2 separate regions of the Homo sapiens genome follow, and region 1 is linked to region 2. The links come from fine-mapping of genetic effects on gene expression. A gene starts in region 2. The other region holds a variant in brackets. All regions are shown on one strand. Distances are from middle to middle.

Evidence for each region. PIP is the estimated chance that this variant, and not a neighbour inherited with it, causes the effect.
Region 1: its variant is the best candidate, but not a certain one, in a credible set for the expression of SEC22C in testis (GTEx, PIP 0.87).

Annotation. Positions count from the first base shown.
Region 1 is chr3:42,667,896-42,672,283 of GRCh38, forward strand. It overlaps LOC124906232 (a long non-coding RNA gene), which reads right to left. Exons shown (of 3, transcript XR_007095893.1): 2 at 2,516-2,633; 3 at 1-1,807. Among named protein-coding and RNA genes, the nearest start is that of KLHL40, 15 kb to the right of the region's middle. The variant C/T (reference allele first, on the strand shown) is at 2,132.
Region 2 is chr3:42,579,576-42,583,963 of GRCh38, forward strand. It overlaps SEC22C (SEC22 homolog C, vesicle trafficking protein), which reads right to left and starts at 2,392. Exons shown (of 7, transcript NM_032970.4): 1 at 2,271-2,392. It also overlaps a transcript of SS18L2 not described here. RefSeq lists enhancers at 1,859-2,685, 2,678-2,807 and a silencer at 2,148-2,477.

The DNA.
Region 1 (4,388 bases), 88 kb after region 2:
TGATGAGCAGTATGGACTCATTCCTCCCTCGGCAGGCAGGGGAGGTCAGAAGGGGCCAGATAACAGAGATGCTGACTCAGGCACCCGGGAAGACAAAAGCTCAGATGGAAGACAGGTGGTAGCCTCCAGAGGAGCAGATGGCTCTCCCTGGGGAACTCAGAATTGTTTCATGGCACAAGTAGTATATACAGAGAGCACTCACTCCATGCCAAATGGAATTCTAGGCCCCGGGGACACGTGCAGAATGAGCCTCCTTGTGGCACTTAACTCTGTATATGTAGAAAAGGGTCAGACAGGACTGGGAGGGACTGGGAGAGAAGTCTCATGGGTGGATTTGTTGACTGGCCAGAAAGGAGGTGCAGGTTCCTAGGATGTTGGCACTGCCTTTCTGCACAGTCCTGCTATGAATGGAAGAAACACAGGCTTGCTCAAGAGACCCTGAAACAAGGCTGGCTGACAGGCCTGGGGGCCTGGCTGCTCCCCCAACTCTTGTGCAGATTCCACTCATCTCTGTGTTTCCACTCTGTTGACCTCCTCCTATATCAGGTTGCATGACACCTCTTTTTCCTCCAGCCCTCCCCCCACCTCCCTCATTCTCACAGCATTTCCACCTTCACACTCCAGAGTCTTGGACACTGTCATCCTAGGCTCTGGGGCAGAGGCCTCTGGGTGGCTGTGGGATGGTGGGCACCACGATTGGTGTCTCTGGAGCACTCACTTTCCCTGATCTTGCTCTTTGGGACCAAGCAGCTCACTAACATCTCATGTCCTGAAGCATGCATAGGTCAGAGCAGCACTGCCTTGCTGGGGAAGGCCGGACTTTCCTTCTTTCTAAAGGATCAATGAGGGGAGGTGAGGCACCCTGGCTTAGTGGTGCTTTTGGGCCTACCTACCCCCTGATTATGTAGCTTTCTAGAACCAGGACTGGTGAATAAGTCAGGTTAGGCTGAGTTCTGCTGCAGTAACAAACCACCTCCTAACCTCAGTGACTCAACATCTGTGGCTCTGAGGGGATGTTCCAGGGCAGTCATTCTCTATTTGGTGGCCCAGAATTCCAGGCTTTGACCTTGGGGCACCTCCATATCAACATGGGCCTCTAGACTGAACAGAGCCAGGGAAAAGACAGGTTGGAGAATCACACCTTGGCTCTTCAGTGCTGCCATCCAGAAGTGGTGTATCACTGCTGTTTCTGTGTCATCATCCAAAGCAAGTTCTGGCATCATGCCTTACTTCAGGGGGGTGTGGACACGCAACCCTCCTGTGTGGCCGGAAGGAGAGGAGAGCTGGAAAGATCGTTGAGTAGCTGCCAGGCACGGTGGCTCACGCCTGTAATCCCAGCACTTTGGGAGGCTGAGGCGAGCAGATCACTCAAAGTCAGGAGTTCAAGACCTTCCTGGCCAACATGGTGAAACCCCATCTCTAATGAAAAAAAAAAATTAGCCAGGCATGGTGGCATGCATCTGTAATCCCAGCTACTCAGGAGGCTGAGGCAAAAGGATCATTACGATCATTAGAACCTGGGAGGCGGAGGTTGCAGTGAGCCGAGATCACGCCACTGCACTCCAGCCTAGGTGACAGAGCAAGATTCTGTCTCAAAGAAAAAAAAAAGATAGGTGAGTAGCCATATCCTTTCCTACACTTGGGCCTTGCAGTCTCCAGAGGTCAGGTTGAGAGGTATCCAGCCTGTAGAGCTGCTTTCTAAAGTCTCTGGAGGGTCAGCAATAAAATAGAGGAGCACTGCCTCCTAAGGTTCCACTGGCTGCAGATGGGATGAACCTCCTGCCACCACAGATGACAGCCTTGGGACCTGTGGAGAATGGAGAAGAGAATGGGATCCCACACAGGGAAGGAAAAGCAGCTCCAAAGGACCCCACCTTGAACTTCCCCATCACTCCCGCCTCTCTCCAGCTAGAGATAGGGCTTCTGGAAACCCCTGTGGCCAAAACTATGCCTGTGTACCTGGGAAGCTGTGGCCTAAGACTATAACTCTCATGTGTTGGGGACACTTTGTGGTCACTCTTCACCATAACCTTCTGAGACTGCTGATAACCTAAGCAAAGGAGCTCAGAGAGGTAAAGCCACTTGCACACAGCCAGAAAGTGGTGGAGCCAGATGCGAACCCAAGTCTGTC[C/T]GATCCCAAAGCCACGTTCTCTAAGCTCTGAACAATGCCACGTCCCCTTCATTCAGCACAGTACTTGGTACACAGTGGCATTCAGGAGAGCATGGCAGTGGGTGGTGAACCAGGGCTATTGGTTGCAAACAGAAGAACCAATTAAATCTCTAGGAGAACCAGAGACTCAGCCTTTGGGGTTATGCAGCCAAAAACAAACCCAAACCACCCTGCACCACTTGCCCTAGGGGAGGCGTGACTGTCATCCCAGCTTGGAACTAACAATGCTGAAGGCTACTCATAAGAAGCTCTGTCTCGACTGCCCCTCCCACCAAAACTAAACCCCTCTCTGCCCCACCCTCAGAGAACACAAGTCTGCAGTATATTTCATTGCTTTCCTCTTACCTGAATCAGTCTTATGTGGGTGTGTCTAAGTGTCAGATCTGTCACGTTTATGCCCTAGTGATGCAGGACAGGCGAGTCTCAAAATTGGGGCTTAGCCTGGGAGAGTTCTTGGCTTCACCTAGGAAAGAATTCAAGGGTGAGCCGGAGGTGTTAGCGACTTTTAGTGAAGCAGCAGCAGAGGTACTGGTACTGTGGAACAGCGCTACCCTATAGGCAGTGTTCCCAGAATAGCAGCTCCGAGGCAGGACTGCAGTCATACTTATACCCACTTTGACTTACATGCAAATTAAGGGGGGATTATGCAGAAATTTCTAGGAAAAGGTTGGTATCTTCCATAGAAAGGGGCAGTAACTTTCAGGTGTTGCCATGGCAATGGTAAACTGACATGGCACACTTGTGGGCATGTCTTATGCAAAGCTGCTGCTTCCACTCCATCCCTGTTTCAGCTAGTCCTCATTAGGTCTGGTGTCCAAGCCCCGCCTCCAGAGTTGAGTCCAACCTCCTACTTCACTAGCTGCAAGGGAGGCTGGGGAAGCAAGTTGTGTTTTCTATGTTGGGTAGGTGGAATGCCCTATGTACTTCATTCCCAATCAGAAAAAGGCTTTGCAAACATGCTGGGTGGCCACAAAGTATAACAAACATGCCCCACAATCTAGCCCTTCACAGCCCAACAACAGCATACACCCTCTTCCATACAACAGGAACAACAAAATGCTATTGATTAACAACCTTCCTCATAATAAATAAAAACGTATTCATCCTCTTCCCAAAAGGGGACACTGTAATTTCTCATCACTGACTGCATCTGGCTCCAAATCCAGGATCTGCTGGTAATTGCCGCTCCTTTCCTGTGATCCCATTTGGTGTTCTGAAATGTGGGGACTGTATTGTTAAATGGAACCATCAGCAACCAGGCTCTTTATAAAACAGAAGGAGACTATGAGGGGAAAAAATTAATATATATACATACATCTTTTCCAGTGTGATGGTTAGTTTTAGGTGTACTCTTAACTGAATGAAGGGACACCGAGATAGCTGGTAAGGGCATGATTTTTGGGTGTGTCTGTGAGGGTGTTTTGGGAAGAGATCACCATTTGAATCAGTAGACTGAGTAAAGATGATCCCCCCTCATCCAATATAAGTGGACACCATCCAGTCTATTGAGGGCCTGGATGGAACAAAAAGGCAGAAGAAAAGTGAATTCACTCTCTCTTCTGGAGCCAGGACATCCATCATCTCCTGCCCTCAGACATCAGAACTCCAGGTTCCCCTGCGTTTCGCCTTGGACTGGGAGTTACATCATCACCTCCTCTTGATCTCAGGCCTTCAGATTCAAACTGAATTACATCACCAGCTTTCCTGGGTCTCCAACCTGCAGAGGACAGATTGTGGAACTTTTCGGCCTCCATAATCACATGAGCCAATGCCCATAATACACCCCCTCTTATATCTCTTTATTCTATTGATTCTGTTTCTCTGCAGAGCCCTGACTTATTAATATACACATCAAGGAAGACAAAACAGGAAGATGTTCCATCCTACTTAGCCACAGGTCATGAGGTCAAGATGGTGCTATTGTCTGAATGCTGGTGTCCCCCCACCAAACCCCAAATTCACCTGTTGGAACCTAAAACACGATGCCACAGTATAAAGAGGTGAGGTTTTTGGGGGAGTGATTAAGTCAGGAAGCTCTGCCTCATGAGTGGGATTACTGGCCCTTATAGAAGAGGTTGAAGGGAGCTACCTGTCCTTTCACCTTGCAAAGACACTGAATTGGCTCCTTCTGCCATATGCGGACAATAGAAGGTGCCATCTATGAAGAAGACAAAACTCTCACCAGATACTGAATCTCCTGGTGCCTTGATCTTGGACT
Region 2 (4,388 bases):
GGGCAACAAAGTGAGACCCTGTCTCAAAAAACAAAAAAAAAAAAAAGAAAAGAAAAAAGAAAAGAAAAGAAAATCAATTCCACAAGGACAAAGGCAGCTTCAGAATGTTCATACAAGAGACACTGGAATGTCTTCCAGATCTTACCAGATCCTTCCACAAGGCAGTGGATGTCATAACCTACCACCTTGCCTGGTACATATTAGGAAGCACTCAGTAAACACTGCTAAGTTAAATGAATGAATGACCTAAGGGCTGCCTTATTTTTGCTCACTGAAACAAGAAATGCAGGTTTACAGATCCCTTGCCATAGTTCTGATCTACAGTTTGAACACTTTTCCACAATAAATCTGTATTTGGAGAGAAAAAGAGAAAGGTTTATACAGATGAAATTTGTCTAAAAGTAGAGTGAAGTAGTAATCAAATACACAGCATCCGTGTTACTAGGTTTTATAAAAACATATTTTAATTTGCCTCCCTTATTTCCTAAATCTTCTTCCCAGCATCTGTTTATAAACTGCTCATGTCATAGATTATCTCTGTTCTATTAACAAAGACTTTATGCCTATGCTGCAGGCTACCCTTGATCCTGTTTTTTCTTCCACCTTTTACCCTTAACCCCTCCTCAAGCCCCTACCACATGCACTGAGAGAGAGAGAGGCTGAGAGAGACAGAAAGAAAGAGAAAAACAGAGAGAAAGAGAGAGATGACTGCACCTTGCAAAATAGGAATTTAGACAAAACAGGCTTCATTTGGCACACAAATATTCAAACACAAAGTGTTCACCATAAAGTATATACAGAATACAGAAGACTCAAATACACAATACAGAAGACAAAACTGAGTTGTGCCACCCTTACTGAATTCACCTTCAGCCACAGGACTTGAGAACTGGTTACCAAATCTGTAGATTCTATTAAGGCTCCAAGTTGCTTGGGGATGGAGTGAAGAGGAGGGTAGAGGTCAGTTTCGTCATTTGTTAGGAACTAAGAGGGGTAGGGAACTAAACTTGATAGGACCTTTTACACTGATAATGTTATTAAATGCTTGTAACTATAAGGTAGACATAATCTATACCGGATAGGTGGGAAAACTGCAGCTGTAAGGCTCAAGAGGTAAAGCTAGATTCAACCCAGACTTCCTTACTTCAAATATTCTAAAGCCTAGGATCTTTCCACCACATCCTTCTTCTACAAATCCAACTTTGGGAATTACAGCTACTCCCTTTCTCTAAAATAATTTCTTCTCCTTAGAGCACTAATAAGCTAATCAGAGACCTGTTGGTAGAGGAAGGAGCCTGAGATTACACTTGTTACAACTGCTCTTTATCCACTGTATTACCTTGAAGTCAGGTTGTCCTCTCTATGATCATGTTACTTTTTGAATTTAGTTGATTTCTAAGTTATTCTAAGAATAAAAAACACTGACTCCAAGATGGCTTCTGTTGCAAATGCAAACACTTAAATCAGAGCTATTAACATTGTCCAAAATGTACTTTCCAGAGGAAACACTATTTGTTTATTTAATTCTATCTGGCAACGTTAAACCATTTCCAGTTGCTTCCATTTTTCATTTTACTAAAATTATCTTTAGTGGGATCAACTCTTCTCTGCAAAATGTAATTAAATATTACCCTATATGTTGGTTCTGAGCTGTATTTTTTTCTGACCATGTCACAAATTTCACCAATTACTTTTCACACTGGCAATAGTCTTCCGTGGCTTTTATTTCTACAAACCTAATTTTTCCCCGAGTGCTTTATCCTTCTGGCTCTGGAGGTACATGTGTAAATCTGTAATGAACACAAAACCTGTAATGGAACGTCCTACACCTAGTGCTCTGAAAAGTTGGTTCAGTGTATCCAATATTTAAAGTCTAATAACACGGGCATGCTAAGGGAAGTTTGCTATTCAGATTAAACAATGCTCTGACGTGAGCTTCGTGAATGGTTAAAGAAACAATCGTCCCCTTTCTCACTCCCCATCTCTTCCAACTGGGAGAAGCCCTTGGCGCCCATCTGTCAGCCCAGGGTTCCTGCAGGCGCGTGCCTTGGGTGGCCCCGGGGTCCGGGAACAGGCTGACGGGAGAAAGGGGACAGAGGACTCCAAGAAGCCCAGTGAAGCCCCGTGGGGAGCCCCATGGTCAAGGCCGGGACTGAGGGCCGGGTGGGCCCTGGGCCGCCTCCACCTCTGGGCCCGCCCTGCGCCACACCCTAACCCGCCTGCTCTTGGCTAACGGGCCGCGGCACCCGCCTCCGCCCGCCAGCCCTCACCTCGCCCGGACGGCGGCCTTCGGAAGTCGGCGCCTGCCAGCTACCCGCCGCCTCCTCAGCAATCTTAGCCGACCGGGAGGGCTCGGCCCAGGTCACCGGCAGCCCAGGCGCAGGTAGGCCGTGGTGCGCGTGCGCGAGTCTTGAGCCACCCCACCTCCCCCCTACCCCGCATTCGCTGCTGCTAAGCGACACCCGCACCCAAACCGACCAATCCCGGCGCGCCTCCACAGCCCCCGTCCCGGCGAAGGCGCGAACGTAGTGGTTCTTAAAGGGCTGCGACCCAAACGGAGAGGGAGTGTGACGGGGGCGCGCGCCTCCCAACTTTCTTCCCACCTCCCGGCTCTCACCGCGGCGGTTTGAGATCCAAGCCTGTAATTCTCACGTCCGGAGGTGAGAAGGAGCCTTCGTGATCTAAGCTCGATTCCTGCCGGGGTAGCAACCGGACTGACGTCTGGAGGCGGGGAGGCTCCGCGTGACAGAGTGATAACGCCCGGGGCGTATGTTCTGCGGTCCGCGCGGCTGGGCGGGAGGCCCGAGATAGGCAAACCAAAGAGCACAACCTACTGCCAGCCTGGATGGGGCGCCAAAGTCCGACCCAGGGGGACACACCCCAAGCTGGGGACCGAGGCACCCACAGATGGATGACTGGCTGGAAGGAGATTAGGTAGGTAGCAGAGTCCGTCCATTTATTCATTTAGCAAGTATTGAGCACCTGCTATGTGCCAGGGGTTGTGGACAAAGCGAGGAATTCCTGACACGAAAAACTATGTTAAGAGAGGAGGCAGGGTGAGAGCACCCTTCAAACAATCAAACACCTGTATAAATACAAACTGCTCTTCAGGGAGGAGCAGGGGTTTTGGGAGAATTTACAGAAGCTTCTAGGCTGGTGTTGGGAATCACAGGAGGCTAACTAGGCAAAGGGGAGAGGAAGTGTGTTTCAGATGGAGAGATTAGCATGTATATAAGAACTCTGTGGAAGGCAGCAGAGCTCCTTTGAGGGATGAAAAGAAACCCAGAAAGGGGGAAATGGAAAGTTAGTGCTTAATAGGTACAGAATTTCAGCTGGAGAAGATGAAACAGTTCTGGAAATGGATAGTAGTGATGATCACACAACAATGTGAATGTACCAAATGCCACAGATCTGCACACTTAAAAATGGTTATGTACATTTTACCACAAAAAGAAAAGAAACTCAGAGTTTAGAGAATAAAGGAGTGGAGTGAGATCCACTAGAGCGAATAGAAGGGGCAGGACCATGTAGGATTTTATGGACCATAGTGGAAAGTTTAGGACCATAGAACACTGGTCAAAATTGCATTTTATAAAACTCACTTTGGCTGCTAAAGTGCAGATCAAAATGGAGAAGTCTCAACAGAGCTATGGTGGGACTGGCCTGGGAGCCAGTGCAGTCATCTGGGCAAGAGAGAATGGAGCTGGAGTGTGGACTAGGGTGAGAGTGAAGAAAAAGAGATCTAAGAAGGCTGCAGAGAAATGTAGGAGCAAAATCAATAGGACTTGGTGATGAGTTGGATGTGAAGGGGCGATGAAGCAGCTTCAAGGATGATGCCACTGTTCAGCCTTGGATAAATGGATGGATGGTGCAGGGATTCACAGATATGGAGAACACTGGAAGAGGAGATAAGATTGATCTTGAGCTCCATCTTAGACAAGTTGAATTTGAGGCACCTTTGAGACTTGGTTAGGATTTTGCGATGATTAGTTTTAGATGTCAACCTGACTAGGTTAAGGGATACTCAGGTAGCTGGGGGAACATTACTTCTGGGTATGTCTATGAGGGTGTTCCCAGAAGATATTGGCATTTAAGTCAATGGACTGAGTAAGGAAGATCTGTCCTCATCTAATATGCGCAGGCACCACATAATAGAACAAAAAGGCAGAGGAAAGGCAAATTCTCTACTCTGGAGTTGGGACACCCCTCTTCTGCCCTTGGCATCAGAATTCCCCGTTCCCCTAATCTCCTAACTCTAGGAGATTAGGTAGTAGAGTCCGTCCATTTATTCATTTAGCAAGTATTGAGCCTTTGGACTCCAAGACTTGTACCAGTGGTTCCCCAGGTTCTCCCGGCTTGGGCCTTGGACTGGGAGATACACCATTCAG